Linked DNA regions of Homo sapiens. The protein of the gene in region 2 purifies or fractionates together with the protein of the main gene of each other region. This does not show direct contact. Each region holds a gene or a part of one and is shown on either strand. Other genes may lie near its edges.

Region 1 (2,753 bases), on a different chromosome or scaffold from region 2:
AGTTCTTCCACATTAATGGTTGGAAGTCATTAAGCAGTTTCTAACAGCTGTTTGTAGATTTTTGGTAGACGGCTCAAACTCATGCTTAGGGGACTCTGCAGCCATTAGGAATATGTACTCAACAAAAAGAGGAAGGAGTAATGGAAACAAAAAACACAGCAACTGAAAAAACATGGCTTACTGCGCTGGCCACTGCACACAGTGAGTGTGACCCACTGTGACATGAACCTGCTATTCAAGCATACCTTTGCTGGTCTGAGGATCACTACATGTGATTCTAACATTAAAAACTACACATTTTTGGTACAATATGGCTACCAAAATACAAGTCAACTATTTCACCTGGTGCTCAACCAAAGAAACAATGATTTCATCCACCCTAGGATGAACTGGCTGTGCTGGATTAAAAGACAGTAGCCTTTGGCTCCACCATCAGTCTTTCTGAAGACATTTTCTTTTTTTTTCTTTTTTTTTTTTTTTTGAGACAGGGTCTTGTTCTGTTGCCCAGGCTGGAGTGCAGTGCCACAATCATGGCTCACTGCAGGCTTGACCTCCTGGACTCAAGCGATCCTCCCACCTCAGCCTCCTGAGTAGCTGGGACTACAGGTGTGCGCCACTATACCTGGATTTTTTTTTTTTTTTTTTTTTTTTTTTTTTTTAGACAGAGTCTTGCTCTGTCACCTGGGCTGGAGTGCAGTGGCGAGATCTCGGCTCACTGCAAGCTCCGCCTCCTGGGTTCACGCCATTCTCCTGCCTCAGCCTCCTGAGTAGCTGTGACTACAGGTGCCCGCCACCACGCCTGGCTAATTTTTTGTATTTTTAGTAGAGATGGGGTTTCACCGTGTTAGCCAGGATGGTCTTGACCTCCTGACCTCGTGATCTGCCCACATCAGCCTCCCAAAGTGCTGAGATTACAGGCATGAGCCACCACGCCCAGCCAGCTAATTTTTTTTATTTTTCATAGAGATGAGGGTCCCACTATGTTGCCCAGGCTGGTCTCCAACTCCTGGACTCAAGTGATCCTCATGCCTCGGCCTCCAAAAAAGTGTTGGGATTATAGGCGTGAGCCACTGCACCGGGCCCCTAAGACATTTTCAAGGGTAACTTTGACTATGCTCAATTTCTATCTGCAGAGCTGACTTTAGATTCAATTCCAGCTTTAAGAGGCTATGCCTGGTGTCTATGGTTACCTCAAAGTCATCCTCTATTAATTCCTTCTTTTTCATGAGCTGCTTTTTCTTCTTTTTGCTCAGATTCTGGTGCTCCACAATCTTGTTGTAATTGAAGTGTTTCTTACTGTCCTCGTCCTCATCCATCATAAGCAAAGCCATTTCAGCCTGTAGAGAGCAAAAAAAAGTTCAAATGTACAACAGTGCTTTTTTTTCCACCCCCAAAAAGGAGTATAGGGCAGAAGATATCTCTTCTAGAAAGGAAGACTCAATCACTAGAACTCTGGGGTACCACCTGTTGTCTGTAAACTGACTGTGGATTACCAAAACAAAGAGATCTTTGTATAGCAATAAGGTAGAATCTCTGGAAGCAACATTACTGAGAGCAGGAGAGGTAAAACCTTGTAGTTAAAAACCAGGCCCCATTTCACTTAGTGTGACTCATTAGTAGGCTGCAGGAACAAGAGTCCCCAACTACCCTCAAATAAAAAGTTCTCATTTTCACTTTGTTCTTTTTGCGCAATGATGCTAAATCTAGCAAATGTTTATTTTGTGATGCAAATTATACTTTCTAAATGTGTAACTTTTAACAAGTAAGTTTTTTTTTTGCTTTTTTTTTTTTGGCCTTTACTGTTTCAATACTGATACATTTCTATGAAGGTAGGACCTTAGGATCTGCTTCTGAAATCTAGTAAATGTCTTTTTACACTAAACGGGTATTTTCTACCAGCCATGGGATTAAACGAGAACCCTCAAGAATCAAGTAAATAACCATGTACACTAGTAAAAATACAGAGTATGCTCTCGACCTTTGTGGATCTTCCTATATTACCACTTTAGACTGCCTTAATTTCCTTTTGTCACTGGCACTTTTAGCTGGCTTTTCAGAGACATTTTCCATAAAAATTGATTTTCTTTGTTGCTCTTTAGATAACTTTATGTGGCCAGTCAGGCACACTTCTGGACAGTGACATGAACATCAGCCCTAGGGGCACTGCTGCCTTCAATTCCTGCCTCAGCAAAATCACATATGACTCTGTGCCAAAATTACGTGTGACTCTGGACATAGGGGGTCACTGAAGCATAAGGTTCACTGCATTTCCAAGAATGTAATTTTGTACGTTAAATATACATATTCACAATAAGAAAAACAGAAATTTGCATTTGACAAACCATAACCACAAACTGTATTCCAGGACAGATTCAGATTGAATTAAAACTTATGGCAATATTATTTTGAGGTTTTAAGGGTATTTTCTGCCTCAGGTATAGTAAGTGTTTTTAAAAGTGAGATAATTCCCTCTTAATTTATAAAAGAAAATAAATACCCTTGAATTTGAGGTTAATTTTAACTTTGTACAATTTGGAGAAATTATGTTTGGTAAAAAAAACACTGTATTTAGAAACTACACTGCTAAAATATTTAATTATGTCTCTTACAATTTAGTTATAAATGCCACTGCTAAAATAAGTTGTTTTTTAAAATTAGTGACATGTACAACTTCATTTAAATTGTACCTATGAATTATCCACTAAGCATGTAACAATAATCGTATTTTACCTTTTGTCTTTCTATTTCAATTT
Region 2 (3,706 bases):
AAAACCCATAGAATAGTATTGGCATAAGCAATTTGGGTAAATAAGGCCTCAGTTCAATTATCTCAAATGTATGTGTTGTAAGAAATTTTAATGAAAATTGCCTCCAAAATTACATATTTGAAGTGGGTATGAATTAATAGTATACCAAAGAATGTGTAAATAACAGAAAAGCCCCATCACACAGCAAATAAATGCAGTAAGTCATTTCTTGTTTCACAAGGCCTGACAGAACAGTATATAATGAAAACATGAGGAATTATTTTATAATACAGCCACAGGGGAAGTCTCTTGAGAGGCCAAAATAATCCAAATAAAGTCATTTTCAAGATGAAAAGACTCTCCCCTTTGAGCCAGTAAGACTGTTTACTTTTTTATTGCTCTGAATTCCAGAACTGTGAAATAACATAGCCCTTTAGCTCTTCTCCAAACATATTTATTACTCCATCTTAAATAGCCCCTCCCTAAGGTTTCCCTTTGACTAGTAAGAGTTGCAAAGTCCCGCAACAATCTGCAGAGGGAAGGATGTTGGAAATGCTCTTGGTTGGAGAGCTTTCAGCACAGAATAAACAAGCATCTGTCCTCACTAGTATAAACTATGTTCTATTTAGAGAAAAGAAGCTGAGCTCCTTCAATTCTTGTGTCTCTTCTCTTCAGCGCAAGTCTGCAATTTGCTGAATGCGTTCGTAGTGGCTTTTTCCCAGCAAAGCTAGAATAAAATGACAACAGTCCAACTGTAGTAGACATCTGTTGATTTTGCTGCCTAGTACTCACTGACTCACTATCTAGTAAGTGTGTCCTGATTTCCTCTTTAAAGCCATCTCATCCCATCTCATCCCACTCTTAAAGAACTGTGGTTTTCTGTGCTCCGTGAAACCGACTCCTTCCCCACCATCCCACTCCAGGGGTGCAACATATGACCCAGGCCCACGCCCATCAGTCTGCTGCATTTCCCTCTGATTGGTAGAGCGGCTATGTTGTTCCAGGACTGTTCCTTAGTTCAGCTAAAGACAGAGTTCTTTGTCCCATGGCCACGAAAATTAAGGCTTGCAGACAATTTGAAAAGGCTCGCCAACAATTTGAATGGTGAGTAAAACAGGGTTTTATTGGGTGAAAAGGAAGAAAAGGGGGAAACAGGGACTCTTACTAGGTCAGAGTCCCTGCTACAACCCTTCCTGTTGGAATCCCAGGTTACACACAGGAAGAGGAGGGGCCAGGCTCCTCCCTGATGCAAATGGCACGAGCTTCCCGAGGCTCCACCCCAAGTGGGCAGGCTGGTTGGAGGTTTTCTGGGGACCCCCTCCCATCTCGCTGTCTGAATGTGACACACTCAGGGTTAGTGAGACCTAATGAGATTTTTCTCTGGACTTCTGGGAAAATGACTCCTGTTCTTATTATCCACTGGCCCTGAAACCAGAGACAGGGGTTGCAGCTGCTACTGTAGGCACCACCTTGTTATCACGTGCGGCTGAAACTGAAGCCCACACAAAGGAAGGCAGAGCCAAGAGATGCTCCAATGCTTTCTTCTGTTGATATCAACTAAGCCCCAAATTCAGCCACGCCTGAAGCAAGATTAACCCTGGACTTTTCCGCATAAGGCAGCTAATACACTCCCTTTTATTTAAAAAAAAAAAACAAAAAAACAAAAAAAAAACCCTCTATTTCTTTTTAAATCAAACTGATTCCTATCAGGTTTTCTGTCACTTCTAAAAGAATGAGTCCTAACTGATACACCAGTGTAAGAACTCCAGCTCTGGGAAATCAGGAGTCAGGCATGCATTGGTTCTGTACATTGGTTCTGTACCTCCCCTGCCATCATGAGTTTTTTTCTTTCTTTTTATTTTTTATTTATTTATTTTTTTTTTTGAGGCAAAGTCTTGCTCTGTTGCCCAGCAGTGGCGTGATCTCGGCTCACTGCAGCCTCCACCTTCCAGGTTCAAGCGATTCTCCTGCCTCAGCCTCCCGAGCAGCTGGGATTACAGGCACCTGCCACCATGCCCAGCTAATTTTTGTATTTTAGTGGAGACGGGATTTCACCATGTTGGTCAAGCTGGTCTCAAACTCCTAACCTCAGTTGATCTGCCCGCCTCGGCCTCCCAAACTGCTGGGATTACAGGCGTGAGCCACTGTGCCCGGCCCCATCATGAGTTTTACAATGCTTATTAAATCAAATGTGACCACGATGATGTACCAAGAATGTACTATTAAAATTTGTCAAACAAATGGACTTTTCATTTACAGTCGTGTGTTGTCACTTTACAACATGAATATGTGTTTGTTTGTGTTTCTAAACATAGAAAAGGTACAGTAAAAAGATAGTTTATAACCTGATGGGACCTCCATTCTATATGGGGTCTGTTGCTGACTGAAACATTATTATATGGCTCATGACTGTATTTTCCTTGAGGACTAATCCCAAGATGCCTCATTGAAAGGGCATGTGAAACCACACTAAGTTTATACTTAGGGAGTTCAAGGTAAGATTTTGGTACAAATTAGCTTCTTTTCCTAAGGTTCACCTGATTGAACATTAGTAGAAATAAAGAAAGAAGGAAGGAATAAAAAAACTTAAAAACACGAACCAAATACATTCACCAATGTACATCAAGTCATTTTCCTTTGGCCTCATAGTTGGCAACATTGGGAGTTAACATTTCACTCTAGGGCAGCAAGTTTAGAAGCAAAAAGGTAGTTTGTTGGAGACAGAAATAGAATTCCTGACCAATAATTAAAGAGGCTTGGTTCCATTCTTTTAAATGGACACATAATAATCATAGATATTTATGTGTACATGTGATATTTCAATACATGTATACATGTGAAATGAGCAAAGCAGGGTAATTAGCCTGTCCGTCACCTCAAACATCCATCATTTCTTTGTGTTAGGAACATTCAATATCTGTTCTTCTAGCTATTTGAAAATATACAATAAATTATTGTTAACTAGAGTCACCCTGCAGTGCTATAGAACACTAGAAACTATTCCTTCTATCTGGCTGTAATTTTGTACTCATTAACCAACCTCTCCCTATTTTTCCTTCCCCCTAACCTTCCCAGCCTCTGGTAACCACTGTTCTCCTCTCCACTTCCATGATACCAACTTTTTCAGCTCTCACATATGAGTCAGAACATGTGGTATCTGTCTTTCTGTGTCTGGCTTATTTCACTTAATATAATGTCCTCCAGGCTCATCTATGTTGCTGCGAATGAAGGATTTTATTCTTTTTTTAAATGTCTGAATAGTATTCTATTGTATAAGTGCCACATTTTCTTTATCCCTTCATCTGTTGATAGACACTCAGGTTGATTCCGTATCTTTGCTATTGTGAATAGTGCTGCAATAAACACGAGAGTGTAGATATCTCTTTGACATGCTGATCTCCTTCCCTTTGGATGCATACCCAGCAGTGGGATTGCTGGATCATATGGTCGTTCTATTTTTAGTTTTTGGAGAAAACTTCATACTGTTTTTCATAACGGCTGTACTGTAGGAGTTCCCCTTTCTCCGTATCCTTTTCGGCGTTTGTTATTTTTTTGTCTTCTTGATAATCGCCATTTGAACTGGGGTGAGATGATATCTCATTTTGGTTTTGATTTGCATTTTCCTGATGATTAGTGATGTGGAGCATTTTTTTAATATACTTGGCTATTTGTATGTCTTCTTTTGAGAAATGCCTATTCCAATCTTTTGCCTATTTTTTAATCAGAT
Region 3 (4,366 bases), on a different chromosome or scaffold from region 2:
CTATACAGCAGTGATTTAACTGTGGTTATTACTGGTTTTACAGAAATCAATTACAATTATTCACCAAATTTTAAAGAATAAAACACCAGGCCGGGTGCGGTGGCTCACACCTATAATCCCAGCACTTTGGGAGGCTGAGGCGGGCGGATCACAAGGTCAGGAGTTCGAGACCAGCCTGGCCGATGTGGTGAAACCCCATCTCTACTAAAAATACAAAAATTAGCCGGGCATGGTGGCGGGCACCTGTAGTCCCAGCTACTCAGGAGGCTGAAGGAGGAGAATCACTTGAACCTGGGAGGTGGAGGTTGCAGTGAGCCGAGATTGCACCACTGCACTCCAGCTTGAGCAACTGAGCGAGACTCCATCTCAAAAACAAAAACAAACAAACAAAAACACCAAGTTTAGAATTCTGTATGCTTATACCTGAAACTAAAATGTTAATATGTTTACATAGCTAAGAGAAACCAAATTATAATAGTACTGATATATGAAACACGAAGAGTCTGTGGTTTTTAAATTTACCCCTTATCACAGCCAAAAAAAATCTGATTTATAGCAAGCTTTATAAAAGCACTTCTAATGTGCACCGAAGTTTAGTTCTGTGGGACTAGTTACTAACTAGCTGTAGCACCTCCTAGGGTTGATCTTAAAGATGAACCTGTCTTCTTCAATGTGGTTTACCACTGGCAGCCATCCTTTTACTGCAAACCTGCCATCAATTAATTTATATTTTCGTATACACATTCAGAAAACAAAACAACAATAAAAAAAGAAAATCATACAACTTCCTGAAAATTAAGAGTGGCTTTCTACTAATTAAAAAGTTGAAAATCTAAAATTAGTGAATGCTTAGGTATTATTTTAACATACGTGATTGAGGGGATGGGTGGTTGGGGGGCTGGCTAAATACAAAACTAAGGAAGCAAAAAGAAGAAAAGTGGTTCACGTTTCCATACTGTCACATACCAATCTCATCACTGTCAAAGTCATCTGAGTATTCAGAACTCCTTTGTCTGGCTGAGCGAGCTGTAATTGCTCTTATTAGCTCATCCTGAAATGAGATACTGAAATCAATTTCCATCCAAACATGGAGGTATCATATTCACAAGTAATTCTTTAAACAAACAATGCTTGATTAACGACTGCTTTCAAACTTAGGTTTCATTCATCTAACAAATATTTCCTGCAAGCTCACTTTATGCCATGTACCCACTTTACGCCTCATACTCAATGCAGAGCATCACAGACAAGAGCCCTTCCTCATGGAGCTCGCAGTTTAACTAGAGGAGACACACATTATGGAACAAATTAATTGCAGGTTATAATTAGAGCTGGAGGGTAACAAATAAGAAGGGGCTCAATTTAGATTATAATTTATTAAAAACTGGTATTTTGAAAGAAATTGGTATTTTTAAGAGCTTTTGTCTCGGCATATTTCAGAAATGGATGCAATCAATATTGCAAACTTAGAGGCTGAGTTCAAAATTGCAGTGACTCAACAGAAAAAAAAACTTAAACATTATGTTACAACAGAAAAAAAAGTTTTTATATAAAAATGGCAATTTAAGGTTGCGATTCAACTTTTAACTTAGTAGGAAACTAGTATTGAGGCTACTTTGGTAGTCTTAAAACCATATAGGGGAGTTTGTAATACTGGATGGAGCCCAAACATGATCATGTGCAAAACCTCAAAAGTAATATAAGATTTACCCCTGCTTTATATAGGACTGTTCTAGAATCACCAATTTCAACCCATCTAATACAGTGTTTACACTGTGAAATGATTCCAAATAAAAATACTTTACCTGGAAAGTAGTTCTTTTGGTAACTTTTGGACTCTTTGTATATGCCAAAGTGGTGCTAAAAACTTCATCAGACATAGTGTATTTTTTCTCGTTACCTTTATAAAATAGCTAATTATTAGAATTCAACTTCTGATAGTAGCTGAAATATACAAAACAAATCAGACTTCGCATGCTTCAGAATTTATTTTATTACATTTGATTCTACTCTCCCCACAAAGGTCAAAGAAAAGCATCTGATATGAACATTGGGCTACATCTTCACTTAAAAAGGTTCTTGTAAAGAAATAGCAAATTCTCATAACAAGCTTGTTTAAAAAAATTCAAATGGAAGTTATCCTAAAATAGTTTTGCAACTACTTAAAAAGTCTGCAAATAAATGATTACAAGTTAATACGACAAAATGCTGCCAATTAAAATAGAACACCTTATTTTTCACCTCTCTTCTAAAGTATAACATTGCCTTCAAAATAAGTCACGTCTTATTTAAAAGGCCATCAAAAGGATCGTCGGCGTAAAAATTATGAGCACCACCACCAAAAAAAAAATGTATCTATATATTTGCATACAGCGCTATTCAAAGAAAAAGATCGTAATGCTAACCCGCAAACAGCCAGCGAGATGTATTGCAAGCCAATTTTTCCTCTCACAAAAGTGTTAAAGAGAGCCAGACAAAACGACGAAGCTTTCGCGATGAGCCGCATTAAAATCGCGGTTTCCCGTACTCGGAGCAGAGGCCTGGCAGGGCCGCCCATAGCGTTGTGCGCCCCGGGTTCCGTTCCCTACCAGGCCAGGTGACGTCCGGGTGCTCGCCGCTCCTCACCGCGCCGTATGCTGAGCACCAGCGAACGCCAGGCCCGTGCACGTCCAAGCGCGGTCTCTGTCCGGATCCCCCATGGCCCCCAGGTCCCGCTTTCTGTTCCCGGCCCCGGACGCCCGCGGCCAGTTCTCCGCGACCCTGAGAATCAAGAGCCAAGCATCGGGTAGGAGCTGCTCACCTTGGTCTGGGCCTGGCGGCGCCCGCAGAGCCGGTCCTGGACCGAGCGAGGAGGAGGGGCTAATAACAGAGGCGGAGGGCGGTTGCTAGGAAACAGCGTCTTCGGGAGGAAGTGACTTCCCCACCGCCGGGTCTCTCGGGTACCCAACACCGCTCTTCGGCCCAACGTGTCGCTGGGGCAACCACCCAGACGAAGGAAGTGACATCACCTTCCTGGGTCTTTGGAGAGGGGCTCATTATTGGTCGCTTGTGTGCATGTGCTGTTGCCTAGGAGACAGGACCCGCCCAACTCCCACCCAGATAGCCTTACTCTTGCCAATAGAGTAAGGGTCCTTATCTGCACGTGTTGCAAATAAAGCACATTCGTCGTTTTGCCACAGTTAGGACGTGAAGTTCTCTGAATCGAAGTACGGTGTCAGTGGATGGGACAGAATAGTACGGTAGTGAGTTTGCAGAACCCTGTTTCCGACTGCAGGTTTGAATCCTGGTACCCCTTTCCTACACACGTGATTGTCCCAAGTTAAGGTCTTTATGACTCAGTTTCTTCTTCTGGGGGAAAACAAAAGTGTACTAATAATAGACACCTGAAAGGTTGCTGTAAAATTGAATGAAATAATACAAGTGGAACACTTGGAAGAGTGCCTGGAATTGTATTCGATATTAGATATGCTCTTCATGCAACTAAGCCGCAAAGGGCCTGGAGAGACCTCAGCTCTTGTGGACACAACTGAAAGCCCATTTGACATCTTACTTGAATGTAAAACTCCCCCTCTTTGTATACTTAGTGAGTAATCTTATTCCAATCAAACCAAACAAAATGATCCACTAGGCTAAAAGAGCATGTGCTACTAAAGTAAACAAAATCAACATCATTTAATTCGCATAGGAAATTCTTAAAGCAAATAAAAACCAAAAACGTTTATTGAAAGTCTTTAAAATAATATGAATTTTTACTATTTTTAATTTTTAAAAAGCTTAATCCTAGTTGAATTATCTGAATGAATTCATTGACTAGTAATTAAACTCATACCTGGTATTTTTTCCACATCTCTAAAATATGTTAATATTTCACTAATTCAATTTTGTATAAACAAATCACATTGAGATAGAAATTTAATAAATCAATGTATTGAAAAACTAAATGTGCATAACAAGAAATAAGAAATTTAGTAAAATACAATGCTGTATTAATCAGGGTTCTCTAGATGGACAGAACTAATAGTATATATATATTATATTATATATATTATATAATATATTATATATATAATATATATTATATAATATATTATATATATATGTCCACTCATCTGTATCCATTTATGAAGCTGAAAATGTACACCACCTCTACACACACATACCCAGAATAGAAAATGCTCCCTATTTTCTATTAACTCATGGCACTACTGTTGAACCCTTCCAGGTTCACCTCATGCTCCTGGAACCTCCTTTCCACTGTAAAACATTCTCTCACTTTTTCCTCTATAATCGCATTCTTATCTTAGCTAAGCAAAACTATTTTCTGAATAAACTATCTCCCTGAGGGCTTTTCAAATAGGGACTGCTG
Region 4 (4,201 bases), on a different chromosome or scaffold from region 2:
ACAACATAAACTGATGCTTATCATAAACATGTTATGTATTTGTTAAAAAACAGTCCTCTGTAAAAATACCTGAAAATTATTGGCTGTTGGTTACATGACTTACATTTAAAAGTTAGAAAACCTTTTCTTATCTTTCTTTTAAAAATGACACATGAAATCATATATATTTATCATGTAAAACATGATGTTTTAAAATATACATACATTGTAAAACGGCTCAACCTAATTAATATATGCATTATTTCATATAGCTGTGAAGACACTCAAAATCTACTCTCTTAGCATGTTTCATATCTTTCATATCGTAACTCAATTAGCTTTGACCCAATTTATTCTATCTCTTGAAGTTCTGGCCTCAAGTGGTCTTTCTGCCTCGGCTTCCCAAAGTGCTGGAATTAACAGCATGAGCCACCACACCTGGCCTTCTATCTCTGATAGTGTGTAAGGCAGCCATTTGGGGTCTGAACTACCTTCAAAGAATCTTTAGATGTGAAGTATGATATTAAAGTAGCAGTAATTTTACCTCTGTGTCACACAAAATACAATATTGTGAAAATAGAAACCCTATAATTTGCATCTTATTGAATAACATACCTGCTTCCAGCACTTTAGTGGGATCAAAAGTGGGCAGAGTCCCCTCCCTGACATCAGGACCATCTCCAGGTGCATCCTCTATCTTAAGCAGAGCCAGTTCCTGTTGAAAAGCTTCCACATCAGTCCCTTAAAGATAAAAAGTCGTCAATTTACGAATTAAAATATGAACTATGAACGAGGTAATAATATTTATTCCCTCATCATTGTGAAATAAAAACCTGTAGGCTAATTATTTCAGAAGTCTGTTGCCAGAAAAGCAGGAAAGCAGAAATGTTCAAACATTGCCCTTTCCTTTCCCAAGGCTGGCCCTAGACAACTTACTTGTTCCTTTTGTACTCATTTGTTCTTATTCTTATCACATTAAATCAGTGATTTGTTTGAGTCAGTCTGACTAGACTATGAGCTTTAGGCAAAAATTTGGCACTGACATCTCCGGCGCTTAGTATATTACACAGCATGAGGAAGCATTAATAAATGTGTTAAAAAGTATCTTATAAAAATACATGAGAGATGTCCGCAGATGGCAGACTAGGAAGCTGCAAGCTGCCATTCTTCCACAGAAGCATAAAACAAAACAAAACAAAACAAAAAACAGAAAATAGCTGAACAAACCATACAGGAACTCTGGAAAACACTCAAAGGTTTACGGCAACCATGCAAATACCCAATCAATAAAAAGCCTCCGTCAAAATGGTAGGAAAGTTTGTGGCTTTTTATGTGTCCTTGTCCCACCCCTCCGCACAGCAGCAGTAAGAAATGTTTAAGATTCCTTCCTAATGTTTTCTGTCCTCCTGTTACTGGTATGTCACAAAATATAATGCATAAATAGACCTCCACCACCCATAAGCATTATTCTCCACTCTCCCTTCACCTTGAACAGCAGGTGCTCCTTCATTTTTGATCTCCCCACTAGGTGCAATACCCTGATTATCAGTTGGTGGTTCCTCTTCTTGACGTTTTTCCTCAGTGGGCTGCTGGACCTAAGGGTGTAAGTGTGTGTGCGAATAAAAAGTCAATAATATAAACACACAAATGCATATGTGCATCGAATCATAAATCTAAAGACATTTTCCAATAGATATATATATAGAGAGAGAGTAAAATATCCATATCCATAAGGCAACACCAGAATATAATATTCCTGAACCAAAGTTGCCTTCATGAGATGCCATCATCATTTTTTATTAGCATGGAACACCTGTATCAGTGCATGTACACTCGCTCAAAAATATTTTTTAAAATAAAATGTGTTAATAGAAAACATCAAATGCTAAAGGACTCACAATCACAGGTCCAACTGGCTGGGAAGACTCTTGGTCATTTCCTCTTTCTGAGGATTGGGATCTTGTTACATGCTCACTCATATCTCTCACTGAAAACAAAATATTGTTATTTGGAAAAAGTGTGTAAGAACTTAGCTATATATATGAACATTCCATGGCAAAATGGTGATTTGTACTTTTTTAATTTTGAAAATATTTTCAAACTAAGTCACAGAGCATTGATAAGTACGCATGCTTTCCAATCAAACTAAGGACAGATTTGTTTGTATCATAGTCGAAGAGGCACAGAAAACACCTTAACGCCATAGCAAAAGACAGAGGACTTTTCTGAGTTTTGGCTTCACAATTAGACTCTCCATCATTTACACATTTAGGAAAAAAACGGGCAGAAAATTGAAACTGAAGTGACTGCTGCTTTCCTCCCACTCTGATATACTAGGGCCACCACCACCTCCTCCCCACTCCCCGAAAAATCAAGTTTTGTTGGAATGCACAGCCTCAACCATTCCTTTCCATGAGGTCCATGGCTGAGATGAGAAGTTGCGACACAGAGTTAAGGTTATGTTCCTCACTGGACACCTCTGCCAGGCACTCTACAGACCTCGGGGCCGTAGTCACCAGCCCACAGCGTTCCCAGTTTCCTGGCCCCTTCCTTACCACCCACACCATCCCTTCTCGCATCCCTAACGAAGAGTCCAGAAACTGTCCTCCCTCAGAGAGTTCCAGGCGTTTTCGGGACTCAGACACCTCTAACAGCACCCACCCCCAGGACTCGCACCATCTTCAGGCGATCTACCCCCTCCACGGCCTACCTTCCTCCCTCGTTCCAGCCCAGCCACGATTACCGGCCCATGGCGCCTGCATCAGGACCTGGGGGAAGGCGGAGGACCACCGCGAGGCCCTTTTCCCTCAAAGCCACGGACTGTGCCACGGGACCTGTCCTAAGCCCGCTGGCTCCTCCACACATTCACTCACAACTAAATTACCAGGAAGACCACTCTGCAGACCTACCGGCTGAGTCTCGGTCAGTGAGAAAGAACGAAGATGTTGGAAAGAACGAAGATGGCGGAAAGAACGAAGACACAACCTCTCCTTGCAGAGCTCTGCCTAGACAGAAGGTGGGCAGAAAGGCGCATGCGCAGCAACAGATCTGTGCAGCATGCGCACTCAGTGGGGTATTTGCCACGTGACTGAAGGTTTCCTGCCTCTGTGGAGAACCTAAACCACAAGCTCTTCTGACAACGAAAATGAACTTACAAAGCACTTTTCTTTTTCCCCCGCCCAACCTTCCTTTCACTTCCAATGGCGTTGGAGAATATGAGGCCCAGGTTACTCTAAGAAAACAATGTGTTTCGGACAAATTCGCCATCATAGAAATAAATATTATATATGTTAATACCCATTTTATATCTGCTTTCATAAATCATTTTCTTGTGCCTTCGCGAGTCTGCTGTCATGCTTGCAATGATCTTACCCACTCCAATATGATAAGACATTCATAGTTTTTGTTGCATGATTGTACATTCAAAATCATTGATCCGGGCCAGGCGCAGTGGCTCACGCCTGTAATCCCAGCCCTTTGGGAGGCCCAAGCGGGCAGATCACGAGGTCAGTAGATCGAGATCATCCTGGCTAACATGGTGAAACCCCATCTCTACTAAAAATTCAAAAAATTAGCCGGGCATAGTGGCACGCGCCTGTAGTCTCAGCTACTCGGGAGGCTGAGGCTGGATAATTGCTTGAACCCGGGAGGTGGAAGTTGCAGTGAGCCGAGATCGTGCCACTGCACTCCAGCCTGGGCAACAAAGTGAGACCTCATCTCAAAAAAAAAAAAAAAACAAAACAAACAAACAAAAAAAAAATTGATCCATCTGAACAAAATTAAGTGGTAGGGACTCTACATCATTTGTTGAATCCCTGTTTCACCCACTGTTTTGAAGTGGCTCTTTTATCATCACCTACATCCCCACTCAATTTTGTATGTAACTCTCTTATTTTAATTTTCTTCCATTGAGTCGTTTGTACCTGTACCACTAGTATACTATTTTAATTGCTGTAGCTTAATTATATTTGTAATGCGAAATAATGCTTGCCCTCCCTCATTGCTTTTTCCTTTTCTGTCTACTCTGACACATTTGTCTTTCAGATGAACTTCAGAATCATTTGATCAGGTGCTAAAATATTCCAGGTGAGACACTAGGTATTATTTTTAAATTACATCTTAACTTAGGGACAATATCTATCTTTCTATTTTAGAATTTCTCTATCCAAGAAAAAGCCACTCCTCATTTCCTCAAGTCTTTTTATGTATCCCTCACAATGAC

Evidence for each region.
Region 1: the proteins of FAM107B (region 2) and ESF1 purify together in Homo sapiens (affinity purification with mass spectrometry; one large-scale study listed by BioGRID and IntAct). This does not show direct contact.
Region 3: the proteins of FAM107B (region 2) and MAP9 purify together in Homo sapiens (affinity purification with mass spectrometry; one large-scale study listed by BioGRID and IntAct). This does not show direct contact.
Region 4: the proteins of FAM107B (region 2) and PAGE5 purify together in Homo sapiens (affinity purification with mass spectrometry; one large-scale study listed by BioGRID and IntAct). This does not show direct contact.

What each region holds. Positions count from the first base shown.
Region 1 is NC_000020.11:13,716,178-13,718,930, forward strand, and holds part of ESF1 (ESF1 homolog), read right to left. Parts: coding exon 2,731-2,753; intron 1,338-2,730; coding exon 1,191-1,337; intron 1-1,190. UniProt on the Homo sapiens protein: May constitute a novel regulatory system for basal transcription. Negatively regulates ABT1.
Region 2 is NC_000010.11:14,670,253-14,673,958, forward strand, and holds part of FAM107B (protein FAM107B), read right to left. Parts: intron 1-3,706.
Region 3 is NC_000004.12:155,373,971-155,378,336, forward strand, and holds the start of MAP9 (microtubule-associated protein 9), read right to left. Parts: upstream 2,996-4,366; 5' UTR 2,801-2,995; exon of another isoform or gene 2,406-2,800; intron 1,945-2,405; 5' UTR 1,881-1,944; coding exon 1,806-1,880; intron 1,052-1,805; coding exon 967-1,051; intron 1-966. UniProt on the Homo sapiens protein: Involved in organization of the bipolar mitotic spindle. Required for bipolar spindle assembly, mitosis progression and cytokinesis. May act by stabilizing interphase microtubules.
Region 4 is NC_000023.11:55,219,140-55,223,340, reverse strand, and holds the start of PAGE5 (P antigen family member 5), read right to left. Parts: upstream 2,996-4,201; 5' UTR 2,889-2,995; exon of another isoform or gene 2,742-2,888; coding exon of another isoform or gene 2,690-2,741; intron 1,967-2,689; coding exon of another isoform or gene 1,959-1,966; coding exon 1,878-1,958; intron 1,575-1,877; coding exon 1,466-1,574; intron 721-1,465; coding exon 595-720; intron 1-594.